Linked DNA regions of Homo sapiens: all the other regions are linked to region 3. Evidence: fine-mapped expression QTL. A gene starts in region 3. Each other region holds a variant in brackets. All regions are shown on one strand. Distances are from middle to middle.

The links. PIP is the estimated chance that this variant, and not a neighbour inherited with it, causes the effect.
Region 1: its variant is the best candidate, but not a certain one, in a credible set for the expression of PRKG1 in caudate (GTEx, PIP 0.64).
Region 2: its variant is the best candidate, but not a certain one, in a credible set for the expression of PRKG1 in cerebellar hemisphere (GTEx, PIP 0.55).
Region 4: its variant is the best candidate, but not a certain one, in a credible set for the expression of PRKG1 in cerebral cortex (GTEx, PIP 0.84).

The regions. Positions count from the first base shown.
Region 1 is chr10:51,160,066-51,165,220 of GRCh38, reverse strand. The region is part of intron 2 of PRKG1 (protein kinase cGMP-dependent 1); the gene reads right to left. Among named protein-coding and RNA genes, the nearest start is that of PRKG1, 88 kb to the right of the region's middle. The variant C/T (reference allele first, on the strand shown) is at 2,184.
Region 2 is chr10:50,269,647-50,274,801 of GRCh38, reverse strand. No RefSeq gene overlaps it. Among named protein-coding and RNA genes, the nearest start is that of ASAH2, 21 kb to the right of the region's middle. The variant T/C (reference allele first, on the strand shown) is at 2,478.
Region 3 is chr10:51,071,986-51,077,140 of GRCh38, reverse strand. PRKG1 (protein kinase cGMP-dependent 1) reads right to left here and starts at 2,654. Exons shown (of 18, transcript NM_006258.4): 1 at 2,240-2,654. The coding sequence starts at 2,550.
Region 4 is chr10:51,152,093-51,157,247 of GRCh38, reverse strand. It overlaps PRKG1 (protein kinase cGMP-dependent 1), which reads right to left. Exons shown (of 18, transcript NM_006258.4): 2 at 3,918-4,084. Among named protein-coding and RNA genes, the nearest start is that of PRKG1, 80 kb to the right of the region's middle. The variant C/G (reference allele first, on the strand shown) is at 2,901.

The DNA.
Region 1 (5,155 bases), 88 kb before region 3:
GGCTTGTAGAGTTTCTGCTGAGAGTTCTGCTGTTAGTCTGATGGGCTTCCCTTTGTGGGTAACCCGACCTTTCTCTCTGGCTGCCCTTAACACTTTTTCCTTCATTTCAAGTTTGGTGAATCTGACAATTATGTGTCTTGGAGTTGCTCTTCTCGAGGAGTATCTTTGTGGCGTTCTCTGTATTTCCTGAATCTGAATGTTGGCCTGCCTTGCTAGATTGGGGAAGTTCTCCTGGATACTATCATGCAGAGTGTTTTCCAACTTGGTTCCATTTTCCCCGTCAATTTCAGGTACACCAATCAGACGTAGATTTGGTCTTTTCACATAGTCCCATATTTCTTGGAGGCTTTGTTCGTTTCTTTTTATTCTTTTTTCTCTAAACTTCCCTTCTCACTTCATTTCATTCATTTCATCTTCCATCACTGATACCCTTTCTTCCAGTTGATCACGTCAGCTCCTGAGGCTTCTGCATTCTTCACATAGTTCTCGAGCCTTGGCTTTCAGCTCCATCAGCTCCTTTAAGCACTTCTCTGTATTGGTTATTCTAGTTATACATTCGTCTAAATTTTTTTCAAAGTTTTTAACTTCTTTGCCTTTGGTTTGAATTTCCTCCTGTAGCTCGGAGTAGTTTGATTGTCTGAAGCCTTCTTCTCTCAACTCGTGAAAGTCATTCTCCGTCCAGCTTTGTTCCGTTGCTGGTGAGGAGCTGCGTTCCTTTGGAGGAGGAGAGGCGCTCTGCTTTTTGGAGTTTCCAGTTTTTCTGCTCTGTTTTTTCCCCATCTTTGTGGTTTTATCTACTTTTGGTCTTTGATGATGGTGATGTACAGATGGGTTTTTGGTGTGGATGTCCTTTCTGTTTGTTAGTTTGCCTTCTAACAGACAGGACCCTCAGCTGCAGGTCTGTTGGAGTTTGCTAGCGGTCCACTCCAGACCCTGTTTGCCTGGGTAACAGCAGCGGTGGCTGCAGAACAGCGGATTTTCGTGAACCGTGAATGCTGCTGTCTGATCGTTCCTCTGGAAGTTCTGTCTCAGAGAAGTACCCAGCCATGTGAGGTGTCAGTCTGCCCCTACTGGGGGGTGCCTCCCAGTTAGGCTGCTCGGGGGTCAGGGGTCAGGGACCCACTTCAGGAGGCAGTCTGCCCGTTCTCAGATCTCCAGCTGCATGCTGGGAGAACCACTGCTCTCTTCAAAGCTGTTAGGCAGGGACATTTAAGTCTGCAGAGGTTACTGCTGTCTTTTTGTTTGTCTGTGCCCTGCCCCCAGAAGTGGAGCCTACAGAGGCAGGCAGGCCTCCTTGAGCTGTGGTGGGCTCCACCCAGTTCCAGCTTCCCAGCTGCTTTGTTTACCTAAGCGAGCCTGGGCAATGGCAGGCGCCCCTCCCCCAGCCTCGCTGCGGCCTTGCAGTTTGATCTCAGACTGCTGTGCTAGCAATCAGCGAGACTCCGTGGGCGTAGGACCCTCCCAGCCAGGTGCGAGATATAATCTCCTGGTGCGCCGTTTTTTAAGCCCGTCGGAAAAGCGCAGTATTAGGGTGGGAGTGACCCGATTTTCCAGGTGCCGTCTGTCACCCCTTTCTTTGACTAGGAAAGGGAACTCCCCGACCCCTTGCGCCTCCCGAGTGAGGCAATGCCTCGCCCTGCTTCGGCTCGCACATGGTGCGGGTGCGCGGCACCCACTGTCTTGCGCCCATTGTCTGGCACTCCCTAGTGAGATGAACCCGGTACCTCAGATGGAAATGCAGAAATCACCCGTCTTCTGCGTCGCTCATGCTGGGAGCTGTAGACCGGAGCTGTTCCTATTTGGCCATCTTGGCTGCCCTCCCATATTTGTGAAATGGAAAACCATCTTCATAGGAGTTTGACCACCTTGACCAGATGCTTTTTCTAATAAAGCTTTGCTATTAATAAATGACTAAAGTAATTTAATTAGCTTTTATATTGAAATTGAACAGTGTACAGAGTAACTTAACTGTTCTTGTTCAACTACACAGACCGTGAACAGCAAATAGAAAGTAAATACTCTATTTGTGTTCTGTTTTTCTTTTTGTTTTTGTTTGAGACAGAGTTTCACTCCTGTTGCCCAGACTGGAGTGTAGCGGTGTGATCTCGGCTCACCCCAGCCTCCGCCTCGCGAATTCAAGAGATTCTCCTGCCTCAGCCTCCTGTGTAGCTGGGATTACTATT[C/T]GGGTTTAAAAGCATTTGCAGGTCTGCTTGGTGGATCATTTCTGTAATCCCAAAAGTTTGAGAGCCTGAGGCAAGGGAATCACCTCAGGCCAGAAATTTAAGAACAGCCTGGGTAACATAGTGAGAGCCCATTTCTACAAAAAATCCAAAAAAATAGATGGGTATGGTGTCATGAACCTGTAGTCACAGCTGCTCAAGAGGCAAAGGCAGGAGGATTCTTAAACACAGGAGTTCAAGGTTGCAGTGAGCTATGATCCAGCCACTGAATTCCAGCATGGGAAAGAGTGAGATCCTGTCTCAAAACTAATAAAATAACATTTAAAATAAAATAAAAGCATCTCCTCCTATATATTCTTATGAATAACTTATGGGTGTTTTGTGATACAAGGAAAAAAATCCACTTCAGTAAAGTTGGATGAATTAGACAAATAAAAGATTCTACACAAATCATTAATGTAACTATATACTCAATAATAATTCCTTGGTATTTTAAATACACATAAAGTGTGAATTCTCAGATTGATTTTAATACCATTTTACGTCATCCACCATAATTCTAAATCTCTGTGTACTACTTTTGGAGCCTTAGCACAAAAATATTTTCATTTTATCAGAAAGGAGTTTATAGAAGGGCCTAAATATAAAGATCAGATTAAAACTGCAGCCTTCCAAAGCTACAGTGGTTAAATTCAGATGAAGTAGGTGCAATTACAGCCTGTGTTTCTCAAATGTGGAGACATGGGAGAATTCAAATAAGAACTTCAGAGACCAATTCGGATGTTCTCTGTGGTGGGGGTGGGGTAGGCTGTTGCCATGGTAGCCACACCAGTAAGCTCCCCTGTGCTGGGAAGTGGCTCCTATCTGTCCTGCCCTTGGAGAGTGTGCCAAAACAATTACTAAACATTCAAGGCTTTCTCATTAGAGGGATGGATATTAAAAGCATTAGTCTATCCAGCTCCACAAAGAAATCACTGAAAATCATGTTAAAGTCCCTGAAGAAATATATCTATGTGTTTTTTAAAATGAACACATAACAATTGTAGATTGTGTGAAGTGTTCAGCATGCAAACTCTTCAACAGTTATGTAATGATGGTTGAAGTAAATTTTACCTCATTAGCAAGAAATCAATGTGTTATTACACCATTGCCAAAAAAGTACTAATCCACATTTTTTTCTCACTTTTTACTTTTTCAGCTATGCTGTTTTGTTTCTAATTTTTACCAAAAAAATACACTTTTAAAGTTTCCAATCTGCCATTCTCTCAAAGTGAAGAATGGAGAGATTGATATCTTAGCAAAATGAAAAAGCATAGAAATAAAATAAATAACTGCTTGAAGTAAGAATAAGATGGGAAAAATGTGTACCTTTTTAATGTGACCTACGATTTGCCTTATTAATGTCACATTGATTTTTTGAAAAAAAAGATGGCATTTCAACCATCATCTCAAAACAAGTACAGCAATTTTCAAACTTTTTAGCTTTCAGGAAGCTTCCAAAATAAGAAAAGCCACACTATGCCTCTTCCTAGTGTAATAAACTCATTTCCACCAGTAATACCTTAGAAAAAATTGGAGAACTGTACATTAGTAGAACCACAATGAGATAAGGCTATATTTTTAAACATTTCACAAGGACGTATTAACCAGATGAGTATTAAGAACATTACCCTTCAAAATATGTCACTTTTTCAATAATGATGTTTTAGAGTAAAACACCTGGTCAATTCTTAACTTGTACAACAAATACCATTACTTTCTAATGGTACATATACACACATTCTTATATATTTTAGCCAAAAAAAAAACTGTATTAGTCAGCTTAATCACCTACCTCTATTCATCAAATCTGTCACTAAATGACTTGTGATTATTTCCAAATATAAAATCCACTCTCACAGAAAAAGAAATTGCTGTCATCAAGTATTTTCAAAAGCATATTTACTGTCCCGAAGGACAATTTATAAAGAATTCTTAAAATATATTGAAAAAAGAAAAGCAAAAATGTATGGCTTTTCAAGCCTCCTACTTTGAAAAGGACAATTACTCTTTCGATTATCAATGTAAAGATAATCTAAGCCATGAACCTCACATAACTAAGCTATGAATGTACCTTCATGGACACACACATGCACACACACACAGACACACACACACACACACACGAGCATGAAGAACACTGGTTAAGAGGATTTCTTTAAAAACATACAAAAAGCACAAACCAAGAGGAAGACTGATACATACATGTAACTTCAATAAGGATTAAGTTCCAATGTATGTAAAGCTGTCCCCCCAACAGTAAAAAAGGGAGAGGACAATAACAGACTTTTCATGGAAGAAACACAAATAGTCACAACCTCATTCATACCTAGGGAGATGAAAATTAAGATCACGAGGTACCATTTCCCATCCACCAGATAGGTAAAATTTAAATGTTTGTCAATATAAATTGTCCTGGATATGAGAGACAATCAGAAAACTTAGGCATAAGTTGCAATCAGGTATAATCAGATAAAACCACTTTGGAAAGTAATTTGATATTATTTAACAAATTTGAAGTTTCACATACATTAAGACCCAGGAATTCTACTTCTATCTATATACACTAGAGAAATTACTGAACATGTTTATAAGGATTCACCGTTAACACTGTTTAAACAAGCACAATTTGAGAGAGCAAAATAACAGAAAATTATTCAGGATACCATCAATAGCAGAAAGTATCAATAAATTGGGTTATACAATGGAACATAATATTGAGCAAAAACAAGTGGTAGAAGAATACGTGCAAAATTATTAGATTTATATAAGTAAAAGAATATTCAAAACTAAACACATACATTACATAAGGGAAAGGATTTCCAAGAAGAAATCTTTTGAGGGCTAGGCTCTTATAAGCTAACTTGTAGAGTATTAGTTCACAGATTCACAGACTCAGAGTCTTGGAGTTTGCAGAAGATACAAGAGATATGTTA
Region 2 (5,155 bases), 800 kb after region 3:
AAATTATTTTTATTTATTATTATTATTATTATTATTTTAGAGATGGGGTCTCCCCTAAGGAGGAAAAATTTATAAGGAAATCTTTGTAGCTGAAATGAAGAGTACTTGAATACTTTTTAGCTCCTTTACCTTTTCTGAGTTAATGGAAGTAGAAACAAGAAGTTCTCCAAACCCCAATGTGGAAGGTCATTTTTCAAAATCCATCTTCCTAATCTCATATCCATGGAGACAGGGTATGACTGGCACCCCATAGCAGATGAACTCTATGGCTAAGATCACTTTATGTCGTCTCAGAGATTGGGGAAGCCTCTAAGAGCTTTCTTTATAGGAGGCATTCATTCATGTACAGGTCCTTAAAGATTCTTATCCAGTCATGCTAAACCTAAACCAAAGGGATTTTCATTTTAGAAAATGTGAGAACTCTCCATGGATTATATTAATGTATAAGAATTATTCATTAGCACTTGATAAGAGCATCTATACTAAAAAGGTAATTATGAAACAATTGTATTTAATAATTGGGTGAACTTAATATGTACTTCTTGTTTACTTCTCACAATGACCTTAAGAGATGGATACTATTATTAGGCCCATTTTACAGATGAAAGAATGGATCAAAGAGAAATTAAGTGAACCTCATATTAGGGTAGTGCTGGGATTGGAACTCAATAAATCTTAATCCAGAATCCATACTCAAAACCCACAATTATTTATTGCCTCCTTGAAAGGGGAATGACTTGAAATTCAGCTCCCCTCCTCTGAACATAGGCACTCACTTTTGTTGCATGACAAACTATCTCTATCAGGAGGTAGCAGAACAATACATTTCATAATTTGATCAAGTCTTTCACATGTCCTATTATGTCAAAACTCCAGACACAGAGCAAAGGCTGAAAGACGGGGTAGGATGCTGTGGTTTCCACTTGTGCAGCCATGGTCAAGTGTTCAATGCAGGAGCCATTTCTCCTACTCCTCTCTTATGCAGAAAAAAAAACCCAAAATTCTTTTGCATTTACTTTTTCTCCTTTCCAGTTGTTTTTGGTTCTGCCAGGACTCTTGAGTGATAATGTAGTATTTTTAGGGGAAATAAGAAATTGACTTCTCTCCCCTGTGCATTCATTCAATGCTGCTGAGTATCTTGGGGGAAATCCCGTGTTCATGAGATTCATGTTTATGTGTTTATTCTTACAAACTTTAGCCTCAGCCTTCATTCTAATAATCTTAGGCCTGAAGTTTATACTAAAGACTCAAACTCCATCTATATTCTTCTTCCCTTCCTAATCAGTTTGTTTTCTCATTTCTTATTGTAGGTAATGGCTCCATATTCTCTCATAAGCTCAAAAAATTGGAATGATATTTAGTTGCCCCTCCCCTTCACCCCCCCAACATGAAACAAGTGCCAAGTCATACAGACACACTTTGCTAACACTTCTCAAAGTATTCTTCCTTTTCATTTCCACTTCCACTTCCACTTCCAAACGCCGCCCTGGCTCTGCTTCCCACCTAAATGATGTCTCACCTCTTAAAGAGCTGACTGTCTTCAGTCCAAGGGTGTCCATTAGGTTTCAATTGACTTTTTAGCTCCACCCCTTCCCCCGCCATTAGAACACTATGCTGAGAAGAATTTGGAGGATCTGCTTGGGCTTCTCAGAAATAAGTCCCTCGATCAATTCATCATGCCTGTGGTGGTTCAGGGATAGGGAAGAAGCATCCTCTCTTAGACTCTCCCTGCTCTACTTACCCACTTCTGCCAGATGAATATTGGCAAAACGCAGCTCTATTTGTACTGTCCTGCTTAAAAATGTTCAGGGACTCTTAACTGCCTTCACTAACATTAAATCCCTTAGCCTGGCATTTAAGCACCTCCAGGCTCTGTCCGTAACTTATTTCAGGTGCAATCGTCATGGCTCCCCTACAAAAGCCTGCATTAGCAGATCTCAGACTCAGCCTCACAATGGACCATGGGGCGAGAGAGGGTGGGATTATAGTCCGACAGCTGGCAATTGTGCATAACTCCATAGCCTGTCTTAACTCTGGCATAATCAGGGTATGAATGTGGGAGAGTTACATATGAATATCATCTTTCAGGAGGTTAATGTAAAATAAGATTGAGAACTGCTGCCCTCGTCTTAGCCAAGCCACGATGCTTGCGATTCCATATGTTCTGGGTTTTCCCATTCTTGCACTTTGGTGGATGCTCATCTTTTGCCTCACCTCTATAACCCTGCCTGGCAAAATCCTTTTTGTCCTTCAAAGTTCAGTTTGAATTCTACATTTTAATGACAACTTCTGTAATTTTTCAAACTAGATAAGATATATCTTCTTTATGAGTCCCCAGAACATTTTATTTAGGATGCTATGTTTAAGCTTACATTGTATTTATTTTGCAATTATTGTCTTGTATTGGCAAAATAATCTTTTTTTTTTTACGAGAAAGCCATAAAAACAAAACAAACAAACAAACAAAAAACCCAAGA[T/C]TCTCTATTTCACTGGGCTGCATACATGGTAGGTCCTGTATGATCTGACTTCTGACCACGCTTGTCATGCCTTCCCTCAAACCCCTTTGCCTTCTCTGCTCCTGCCATCCTAAACAACTTGGAATGTCCCAAACTCCATGTTCTGTCTCAATTATCTTCAGGTCTTGCGCACATCATGCCTTCTTATCAGGTGAAGTACATTACCAAAATAGCCACAGTCCTTCACCCACCCCTGTGACCACACCTTTCAGTGTGACTTCCCATCACTAGGTGGAGACAATTTCCCCTCCCCTTGAATCTGGGCTGGTTCTGGGACTTGCTTATTTTGGTAACAGGGAATGCAGAGGAAGTTCATTGTGCCAGTTCTGAGCCTCAGCATCAAAAGGCTTGCATGTTTTCACTCATTCTCTTGGAAGCTTGTTCAGCTGCCATGTGAACAAACCTGGGCTAGCCTGCTGGAGAATGAGAGATGATGTGGAGGAGAGACAAGTGGTCCAAGCTGAGGCTATCCCAAACCACAGTCCCCACACAACACCCAACCAACCCAGCAGCTCTCTGTTGGTTGATGGATTAGAAAGTCTCAAGTCAGAGCTATCTAGCCGGGCCCAGCCCAAATTGTTAATGCACAAGATTATGAGATAACACATTGTTGTTATTTTAAACTATTACGTTTTGGGGTGGTTTGTTATGCAGCCAGAGTTGCACTAAGTTAACAGCTACCTTTCTGATCTCCACCTGTCAAAGCTATTTCTGATCCTCTTCAAGTCTGGGTTAGGGTTTCCTCTTACATACCCCAGAGGTACTCACAGTTCAATACTGTAATTACTTGGACATCATCTCTATTTTGACATTTGATTGTAATATTTTTAGGGCAGGAACTTCATCTTATGAATTGTATCCTTTTGTTCTAGCACAGTGTCTGGTACTCCATAGATGCTCGGAAAGTATTTGTGAATGAAAGAATGGATTAAATCAGAGGTTGCAACTTGTGGACAACCTATTTTCATTTTGTCCTGCATAGTGTTGATCTGAAGAGCGATAAACATGTTTGGGTTTCTTTTTTAGGAATTGTTGGCCGACATTTGAAAATCAAGAAATTTGAGATAAACACCTGCATTACTGACTTGTCATTAAAAGAAATGGGAGGATCCGTCAACATTGGGCCTGCATTTTCTCATGGCACCAATGAGTAGTGACAGTTCCCTTTAGATGGGGCACATATTTTCTGACTGTGACAGTCTGGCAGGGGTTCCTATTGTCTCATCCACACCCATTGTTATTGATCATCACATCTGTGCTGTTCTCTTTTTTTTATGTTTAATTTTTTTTTATTATACTTTAAGTTTAAGGATACATGCGCCCAACGTGCAGGTTTGTTACATATGTATACATGTGCCACGTTGGTGTGCTGCACCCAATAACTTGTCATTTAACATTAGGTATATCTCCTAATGCTATCCCTCCCCACCAACCCACAACAGGCCCTGGTGTGTGATATTCCCCTTCCTGTGTCCATGTGTTCTCATTGTTCAATTCCCACCTATGAGTAAGAACATGTGGTGTTTGGTTTTTTGTCCTTGCGATAGTTTGCTGAGAATGATGGTTTCCAGCTTCATCCATGTCCCTACAAAGGACATGAACTCATCATTTTTTATGGCTGCATAGTAGTCCATGGTGTATATGTGCCACATTTTCTTAATCCAGTCTATCATTTTTGGACATTTGGGTTGGTTCCAAGTCTCTGCTATTGTGAATAGTGCCACAATAAACATATGTGTGCGTGTCTCTTTATAGCAGCATGATTTATAATCCTGTGGGTACATACCCAGTAATGGGATTGCTGGGTCAAATGGTATTTCTAGTTCTAGATCCCTGAGGAATTGCCACACTGACTTCCACAATGGTTGAACTAGTTTACAGTCCCACCAACAGTGTAAAAGTGTTCCTATTTCTCCACATCCTCTCCAGCACCTGTTGTTTCCTGACTTTTTAATGATCTCCATTCTAACTGGTGTGAGATGGTATCTCATTGTGGTTTTGATTTGCATTTCTCTGATGGTCAGTGATGATGAGCATTTTTTCATGTGTCTTTTGGCTGCATAAATGTCTTCTTTTGAGAAGTGTCTGTTCATATCCTTCGCCCACTTGTTGATGGGTTTTTTTTTTTCTTGTAAATTTGTTTGTGTTCTTTGTAGATTCTGGATATTAGCCCTTTGTCAGATGAGTAGATTGCAAAAATTTTCTCCCACTCTGTAGGTTGCCTGTTCACTCTGATGGTAGTTTCTCTTGCTGTCCACAAGCTCTTTAGTTTAATTAGATCCCATTTGTCAATTTTGGCTTCTGTTGCCATTGCTTTTGGTGTTTTAGACATGAAGTCCTTGCCCATGCCTATGTCCTGACTGGTATTGCCTAGGTTTTCTTCTAGGGTTTTTACGGTTTTAGGTCTAACATTTAAGTCTTTAATCCATCTTGAATTAATTTTTGTATAAGGTGTAAGGAAGGGATACAGTTTCAGCTTTCTCCATATGGCTAGCCCATTTTCCCAGCACCATTTATTAAATAGGGAATCCTTTCCCCATTTCTTGTTTTTGTCAGATTTGTCAAAGATGAGATAGTTGTAGATATGTGGCATTATTTTTGAGGGCTCTGTTCTGTTCCATTGATCTATATCTCTGTTT
Region 3 (5,155 bases):
CATTCAAACAACATAAGATTTATTCATTTTGCATACAATGTACTTCTTTTTTCCCTAAGAAAGGTACACTTTCTACTACTCAAGCCAATTTTTTTCTAGTTTTCTTTATGTAAGTGTGAAAAAAGAACAGATGTTTTTCCAAAATTATTTAAGCTTGGAAGGCATTCTATCATTTTCCTCAATAAAATACTTCAGAGTCACCCAAAGCATCATGGCAATACCTTAAGAGCTGAGTCCTTTAAAATACAAGTTATTAGTAAGAAATCAGTATCAGGACACACAGTGTTGTTTGATAGATAAAATGTTATTATAATGATAGATAAAATGTTATTATAATGGGATGCTGTAAATTATTTGCCACACCAGCTTTATTTTCCACTCTGGACCTTTTTCGTTTGTTTGTTTTTCAATCTAGATATTCTACAAGTCATGTACAAAGAGGCTTTTAAACTTATCACATTGTATAGCTCATTCCCTACTGCCTAGAATCTTGTAAATCTCTGATGGAATGTGTAACTGGAGTTATCAGCTGGCTTCAACATGCTTCACTATGAAACCTATTAAAGTGGTCTTTTTGTAAAAGCAGAGTTTGCTCTGTGTCACTCAAAAGTCCTGCGGATACAAAAATGAGATCCTATGAAATGTTTAAAGATGCAGAGAGCTGTCTTTGAGTTATTTTTTCATTATGCAAAACTTGGCCCAGGAGAGATGGTCATGTACCTCGTTAGCTAAAACAGTCAGGCATGTCAGGATTGCAAATTAATTTACCAGAGAAAGTTGAAGTTTATTCAGATCACTCAGGTTTCTAAGGCAGATCTAAGTCTGCTGAACTATTAGGGCAATTTGGTAAGGTCAGAATCTCAGAAATGTTTATCCTTATTGTCTCTTTCCAACTCCCTCGCAGAATACAAACTCCTCCCTAAACTAAGCCTGCATGAACAGCAAATGTTCCATGGGAATCAACATGTATAGGTATAACTCTAAGTTTTCAAAAGTAGTAATTGGTACATGCTGTGATTCTCCCCAAAAAACATCCAATAAATACAAATAGAGATAATCAAATATTTACTTTCTCCTTATATTAACTTGTTGTATTTATGAAGTGAAGGGTTTCGATGGACCTTGCATTATTACGTAACACGTGCCATCCAGCCAATGTGATTTCGTTAGTAGTAGAGTAAGCAGCAATATCCTTGGTTTTATCAATTACGTTATTATCTATTAATTTAAAATGCCGTTCTTTTGGGTGCTCTCCCACATTCTGTTAACCTCATGTTCCTGTCGCTTTACTCTCCATATGAACTCTGAGTTGAGTGTTGTATAACAAGTTTCATTAAATTTTTCCCATCCAAGTTATGAAGCCCACTAACATCAGAATTGCACAGTTCCCTAAAAGGCTAGAACAATGCCAGAGTGGTTGCATTAGAAGCCAAGAGTAAGGCAAACAATGGGTCCACGTTTTAAATAAGATAAGTGTGCTTATCTGTATCTGACCCTGGAAACAAGCAACCACCTCTTGGGAGATGGAGATGCTCCATTAGTAACATTATGCACGTTTCTTAAGTAAAATAAGCAATCTTCTCCCTCATATGTTATGAAAAAATATTTCTTCAAAATCAACAGACTAGTCTTCCATTTATGGATTGTAAATGTCATCCAATTCAGGAAATCAAAAATTCTTCCTTTTTCTATGCCTATTTGCTTATGTTTCACACTTTGATGATGACAAGAACGTCAGGTTTGAAGGGTACCAGCGTGAAGCGCCAGCAGGTAGAGAAATCCGGGAGAGCCACAAAAGCATAGAAAGTATGGGTGATCAGACGCATTTCATTTCAAGTCTGATGAGCCTGCATTTAGGATTTTCCAGCTGGGCTGGTTTGCCAGGGCTTTTGGGAGACGGGGGCTTTTTATTTCTTCTCTCACACTCACACACACGGTCGGACACACACCTGGGACGTGTTCAAACTCTACGTACACTAGGTGGCTTATACGAATGTATATGTATATTTAAAAATAATACCTTGACATCTGACAAAGACACGAAGGCAACGTATGTGCAGTGAGTCTGGCTCTGAGAAACGTGCACAGCCCCGCAAGAAGTGCCCGTTAAAATGAAACATTTCTGAGGATGAGGACAGACATGGCAAGCGGGAGGGGCGGGGGCCGACAGACAATACAGAGACCCGCAGCTCCCCATCGCCAGGGCGCCACATGGACCCGGCGCGTCACCCCTGCTTACTGTGGGCTCTTGGGGTAGAAGGGCAGGGTCACATGGCTGAGATCCTGGATGTCGAAGGCGGTGGGCTCGGCGGAGATCGCCTGCCGCTTGGTGCGCGGCTCGCCCTGCAAGGTGCTCGCGCTCTGCTTCTGCGCCTGCTGGGTGGCTGGTCGGATCACCGAGCGGTACTTGTCCAGCTCGTTCTGCAGCTTCTGGATCAGTTCGTCCTTCTGATCCAACTCCAGCTCCAGCTCGTCGATGAGAGCATCCCGCTGCCTCAGCTCCTCGATCTTCTCCTGGAGCGCGTACTGTAAATCCCGCAAGGTGCCCATGCTCCTCCGGGCTGCCGGGGGCTCCTTCCTGCCGCTGCTCCGCGTCTTGAGGCTTCCTCCCCTCTCCGATCAACTTTCCCCAAAGTCGCCGCTGCCTCCCGAGTGCCAAAGCTTCCTACTTGAGACCAAAGCCAGCCCTGGCTTCTGAGCATGCCCAGTCCGCCGGCTCCAGCCACCCAGAGTTTCAGTGCAGATTCCACTTCTCTGGGCTGGCTGTGAGGCTCAGAGCGGGGAGAGCAAACCAGCAGGTCCAACCCGGGATTAAACCTGAGACGCGGTGGGCGCCGCGGCGCGGGGGAGAAGAGTCGGAGGCGCGGTGGCGGGGGAGCGGGAGGAGGGGACGTGAATGGGGGCTCCGAGGCAGCGGCTGGGCTCTCAGAGTCCCTCGCGCCGGGCGCCCAAGGAAGCTTGCGGGGCGTGCGGGGAGCCTGATAAGCCTCCGAGGCGCGCCGGGGGTGTGCGGGTGGAGCGAGGCGGGAGCGCTACTTCGGGGGTGGGGAGGTGGGAGGGAGGGGACAGGGAGGACCCCGGGCAAACTCGGGAGGCCTCAGCTGACTCCAGAGCAGACCAGCCTGGAGAATGTTGAGCTACGATCCTAGCGACGTACGAGGCATAGGGGACTCTGCATCATCAAAGCTCTGAGTTCTGGAGGTATTTTGACGGCCGGCCTCACTAAGGAAAGCTCCCGAGCGGTGTGGCCGAGCTGTCGCTTCTCCCACGCCACCTTTCCCACCCAGAGCGCCTCACACAGGTGGCTAACGCTTGCGAAGAAACTTGCCTCTCAGGAGATGCGAGCGAGTCGGCGCCCGCGAGGAATTCCCCCTTTCAGCCTACTACCTTTGGGAAAGGGTTGTGGGGTAGGGGGTGGGGTTTCCGATTTTAGCACCCGAGGCGTTGCTACTCTTCGCCTGCTCCAGATAGTTACTTTCCTTTCTGCCCCTTCCAAACTCTCATCGGGGAACTGTTTTAGGGCAAAGGCCAAAAACGGATTTGGGCCCTAGCAGGTCACTCAGCTTCCCCATGAGCCCTCCGCCTTGAGCTGGTGCCTGGGAATAGTTCTCGGATGGGCCTTGCTTCTTCCATTTGCTGAATTTGGCGGGGAGAGGGTGGGGGTTAAAAATCATTCCCGAGCTCCAAAAATTTCATCTTGAAACTGAATCATACCTTTAAAAATATTACTTTCCTCACAACCAAGCTGTTAGGAATGTATCTTTCCACTTGAATGGCCAGGAAGACATCCTGACACAAACTTTGAAGAAGAGGGAAAATCGTGAAGGAGCGAGGGAGACCACGCAGGCTGCAGTGAATTGTACACTATACTGCAGTCACCCCCACCTCTACCCACTCCCACCCTCATCCCTGCCCACTCAATATTCCCCAAAATGATCACAATTAGGTAACTTCCTTTCTATCCAAGTGTTACACTCCCATCATGGGAACACATGTTTAGAATCCCCAAATATCTGCCTAATACGTACCTAAATCCCTAATATTTGCTTAAGACATTACGAACTCATCCAATTTTATAGCATCTTTATTGGCAGATTTTTGATTACTATTCTTGGGCACTCAATATTATAATCCTCAATGCTCTATTTGGTTATTCCTTAACACTAAAACAAAGTGGACAGAAAATAAAATTGAATTGCAATGCAATTCTAAACTTAGCAAAGAATAGTATCAAAATAACTTGCACACTGTTGCTTTTGAATACACAACTTTTTGTATTTAAGCTAGAGACAGAGGAAGGGAGGAAAGGAGGGAGGGAGGTCAAGGTATCTTAACAAGCTTGTTCATTTAAAGTGTCCTTGTTTTTAATTAGAGGACTAAATGACAAAATATATAGTCCTAAATATTCTTTTATGTAGATTATGATCTAGTAATTCTCTTAATGCAGATTACACAAGACACTTCATTTTTCTGCTTTCCAACACAGACTTTCAGAAGTGCATTTATTTCTAAATGTGATATATAAAATGGATCATTCTCAAAACATTTTCTTTTGCAATGAAGAAATGAGCAACTTACAAATATTGAAAATAATAATAGCTCTGAATTACTGTTGTTTTAATTAAAAGTAAACCAAGCAGAAGTACTGTGACTTTGTATAACTCACTGTATTCTAAAAAAGCTTCCATGAAAATTTCCTTCTTCTGGGCAAAAGGCCAAATTCTTATTTAACCTGTGGGAATTCTTTATTTCCATGGGAAAATGTTGAATACAAAATGACTTTTTCCTATAGATCTATTATTGGGGTTCATGAAGCCATGAGTTTATGTCTAAAAATATACCAGATACAATGTATAGAGGACATAATTAGACAACTGCTAAGCTGGGTTCAGAATTCCAGGATTTTCTCTTTGTTTTTTTTTTGTTTGTTTGTGTGTTTGTTTTTGAGACGGAGTTTTGCTCTGGTCACCCAGGCTGAAGTGCAGTGGCGCAATCTCAGCTCCCTGCAACCTCCGCCTCCTGGATTCAAGTGATTCTCCTGCCTCAGCCTCCGGAGTAGCTGGGACTACAGGCACCCGCCACCACGCCGGCTAGTTTTTGTATTTTTAGTAGAGACGGGGTTCACCATGTTGGCCAGGATGTTCTCGATCTCTTG
Region 4 (5,155 bases), 80 kb before region 3:
GAAAGCAACACAACTCATTTTGCTTGAAAATACATGATAATGTCTGCATACTACACCCAGATGACTTTTCCCCAGTCATCGTAATTAACAAAGTCTTACCATATGAGTATTCTCTTTGTTAAAACCATAAGAACCTCTGGCATTTAGGTATGCAATAACACTTGGAACACTGCCCGGGGTGCAAACAAAAAAAAATATGTAAGGCACATGTTAAGCATTTTATGAAGACCACTTAATTTCACTAAAGAGAGACAGGAAGAATTGGACTGATTTTCCACATAAACTCCCTGGGTCTTTTGCTGAATATCTTGATAGTAAGCAAGCTTGTGGAAGATCCTTTACTGCCTATTCATTCATTATTACCATGGTATACTCTTTATAAATATGAATGTTCACAGATAACAAAGAATCCATCTATAGCAAGAACATTGCTACCTAAATTTTGAGAAGATTGAACTAATGATACAATGAAACATTTCCTCAATTAAAACTTTTTAAAATTTAAATGATCGTTTTTTAAATTTTAAATTATTTTGACATAAGGCTATTAGCACAAGATCTGCTAAAGTTACACTGAGCTGGCTAGAATTACCATTTAGGGAAAGATTGGCATCAGGTTATAAAATTGTAGTCATTTTATTGAGTTTAATTGAAGGCAATCAACAACATTGCAAAAGCTGTGACTCTGAAGGCAGTCAACATCATTGCAAAAGCTGTGACTCTGAATATTGATATATTATTTAGAACCCTGTTTTTAAAAGGATAATTAAGATAACGTGCTGTTTAGTCAATCTAGCAATAAAAGGAAGATAAAGAAAATTTATTAAAATTATCGTGAAGCAATGGGGAAAATATTAGTATACTTACCTGGGGAAGAAATATCACCTATCATGAGTATTTCTTTCTTATTTTGTTACATTCGGGTGTGTGTGTTTGTGTGTGTGTGTGTGCTTGCATCAAATAACTTCGTTTGCTTCCTTCTCTTATCTCCTTATCATGCAGCATAAGATGTATTGACTTTATATCATAGTATTTAAGTATTGTTAACTTCACATCATAGTATTTAAGCTACGGGATATCAATGAGGTGAGTAAACATCACCCAAGAACTTTGTGTCTTCTTTTGGGGAAAGGGTTAGTAAATTTGCAGCTGTACACAGGGTTGTTGAATCATGTTAGGTGGAAGTATGACCTTGTTCTTGTCTTTATTTGAAAATTAAATATGGTTTAAGAAGATATGTATGGGTGCCAAGGTGACAAGGGGTCGATTGACTTGTGATGTTTAATTTTACATGTCAACTTGGATAGGTCACAATACCAGAAAGCTGCTCAAAAATTATTCTACTGTAGACGTTTTGGTGAAGATATTTTAGTAACACCTAAACGAATAGACATTGAGTAAAGCTGATTACCCTCCAATAATGTGGGCGAGCCTCATCCAGTCAGTCAAATAGAAAAAAGTCCCATCTTTCCCCTAGAAAGAGGAAATTCTGTCAGCAGACGGCTTTCAGACTCGAATTGCAGCATCTCTGATCAATGGGCCTTACCCTGTAGATTTTGGACTTGCCAGCCTCCACAATCACATAAACAAATTCCTTAAAATAAATCTCCTTCTCACTGTATATAGACACACACATCCTATTTGTCCTGCTTTTCTGGAGAGTCCTGACTAATACATAGCCCCATAGTTAACAGTTTGAGCTCTGAATCCAAATAGCCTGGGTATAAACCCTGACTCTACTATAAACTAGTTGGGAGACCTGGGCAAATTACTTAACCACATTAAGCTTCAGTCTCCTCATCTACAAAATGGAATAATAAATATTAGCCTTTACCTCACAGTATTGTTTGAGGTTTAAATAAATTTTATATGTAAACAATATTTAGAAAAAGCATGTTCTATGTGTTGGGCATTTTCTAAACATTAACAAATATTAACTATTATTCCCAAGCTTCTTCCAATATAGCTAGAAGACTTTCAGTTAGGCTTAGTAAGAAGGGACAACATGAATAAATTTTAGAAATAATGTCCATGGTTGTTTGGAAATCTACTTTTGTAAGAAATATTTAAGATGAAGGAACATTGAATCCACAGGTGTTCAAAATTGTGGTTTCTTGAATGAAACAGCAATAATTAGCACTGGAAAACAGATGAAGTAAAAGTATACTTTCCTTTATACAATAGCTGTTTTATTAAAAGGTGCTGACCAATATAATATCTGAAAAATAATATCATATGAAGCTATTGATATAATCTCAGAAGTGCTTTAAACGTGGTTTCTAATTGTTAGTAGTTCTTAAGATATTGCCTCTATCTTTATATTCTATACTTGACCTCTATATATTTTTGCCACTTTTCCATCCTTTCTGCTCACTATCCACATATAGCCTTGTCCTATAATTTCATCTCTTTTCTTTGCAATTCTCTGCCAAGTGTACATTATGTGTATTTTTGTTTATTGTGTTTTGTCACCAGAAGAAAGTCTAAATGAATATTTATATTTTTTGGCCTGGGAAGAATTTTATATTGTTGACATAGAAGGTGAAAACTATAAGGGAAAAAAATGATAGAAATTACTACTTAAAAACTGAATGCCTAACATATATCCAAAAAGATGACAAAGAATAAATAAAAGGTGCATGCTGAATGAAGAAAGAATATTTCTTATATACTGTCAAGATTTTAATAGAAATAATACTTATTATTATGTTGTGGTGTTCTATACTTTACATTAAACATTATACAAATTATCTCATTTTATACCAATCGTGTAAAGAAGGCAGAATGCAGGATTTTTCATACGTTGGCTCTAATGACATTTTGGGCCAGATAAATCTTTGTTCTGGGCAGCTACCCTTTTGAGCAGTATGCCTGGCCTTTACCCACTAGAAGTCAGCAGT[C/G]CCCCCAACATCACCCCCTTTGTGACAACCAAAAATGTCTCCAGATATCACCAAATGTCCCCTGGGAGACAGAATCATCATCAGTTGAAAACCACTGGCAGAAAGAAAGAATATCTTCTTTTTTTACAAATTGGTTAGGTGAAACAGAGAAATTAAGTGACTTGCCCAAATACACCACTTCTCTGAATGACCTGTAAGTTTGATAATTATAGGACACTATCACACAAATGTTTTGGATAAAACATTAATCACCACCTAAGAAACTGGTTTTCATGTGTCACCATCTTACATTATAGGTATTTCTGCACTCACTTTCTTCCAAGCTGATTCAGTCATTATCTCAAGCTACTTTCTTCCCACAAAAGAAAAGCATGTCAGTATAGATTTCAGGTCAGAAAGAAGTATTATGAAAAATTAGCTAGGCATAAAACATATTACACAGTGCGTGCCTCAGTTTTTTTCAAAACACTTTCTATATTAGTCTTTACAGGATGTATGAAACAAGCTATCATTCCTATTAATTAGGCAGGTAATATTCCATTCAACCTTTATTGTCTGCCTCTGTCATACACATGAAAAACATTTTCTTTTTACAGAAGCTTCATAGCAGGAAAACTAGTCACATATTAAAAGTTAAGGGGAGAGTTGAAGATGCTTAAATTATCGGCCAAAAATACTTCCAGTGATCTTGAGCTTCTGCTGAAGCTTTGTATGTTTGCTCAGTGACCTGACTGCATGAAGAATATTCAGTGTAATAAACTATATTTCTTTTTTCACATTTTTAACTTTTCCATGTCTGAAAAAATACTGGATTCTCATATTAATACTCTAAATACAAACACTTCCCATAATTAGTTAACCACTTTATCTAAGTAGTGTTTCAACTCTTCTCAAACTAATTTCTCAATAAAAGAAGGAAAAATGGAATTTTCCATGTAATGCATTGCCATCTGTGTGCAGCTGATAAGATGAAAAAAGAATATTTGAATGTCAGAGGATTGGAGTTACAAACCGTACCTTCCATGACATACACCAGTGACCCCACGTCTCCTTCTTTGATGATGCAACTGTCCTTGCCATACTCCACCGGGTACATACAATCCACAATCTCCTGGATCTGCGACAGCTCCAAGTTCTTCATAAAGTCATTGTCAAGGATAGCTTCCTTTATAAGATCCTTGGACCTATGGCAAGAGAGGGAAGATTTACTGGCACATCTGACAAGCTCTTTCATAGTTTGTGAGGTTTAGCAGCGCCATAGAGTGCTCTGGCACACCACAAATGTATTTTCTTGTTAGGAATCCAATAATTTTCTGGAAGACTGGAGAACAAAGTATGTCCATGGCAGCAAAACAAAAAAAAAAAAAAAAAGGCACTAAGAATTTTTTTTAAGTATTCTATCATTTAATGAATAAGTGACCTACCAACCAACCAACCAACAAAATCATACAAGTCCATTTTGCTTTAGACTTTTTCTTAATCACAAAGATTGCTAGAAAACCAATGGATACATACTTTAAAGTTTGTAATTTAGTTTAAGAATAAACATGAATAAAATTTCAACATTCCAGAACAAATACTATTACTACTGTTTATATTTATAAAAGAATATCAGGGATGTATTGTACTATACACAATTATAGAAAAAAATGTTTACTTATTTTTTATGTGCCTCTTCTGCTAGACTTAATGCTCCACATAAGCAGGGATCATTTTAAATTTGTTCTTTATTTTATGCCCAGTGTCTACTAAGATGCCAGTCATCTATAAATAGTATTTAAAAAAATACCAACCTAACAGCTTTATGTGTGAAGACTGGTGAATATAATGTTACCTTCAGTAAATGGTGGGAGATAATACTGCTCAAGTAATATTTTGGATTAAAAAAGAATTGGATTCCTACTTAGCTATTTGAAACAACTGGTAGAAATGCAACAGTTCTTTACACATGTCCCATGCTTTTTAGAGAATATTTCTTTCTTCAAGCAGCTTAGACTGAGGTAACCAGGCAGATACAACTCTATTGAACAAGATGTTTGAAGTGCAACATGTTTTAGGTATGGGATTCAATACAGGTAGTCAGTAGGAAACATATTCATAAATTTTGTAATTGGAATTCAGTGGTTAACGAGAAAGTTTTAGCAGAACTTAAAACATTGGGATATTTATTTGCTGGGATAAGAAGTTCCAAATGACTTTCTAAGAATGCAAAATCAAAGTGGAAGAAATATTAAGAAATATTTTATCAGGAGGAG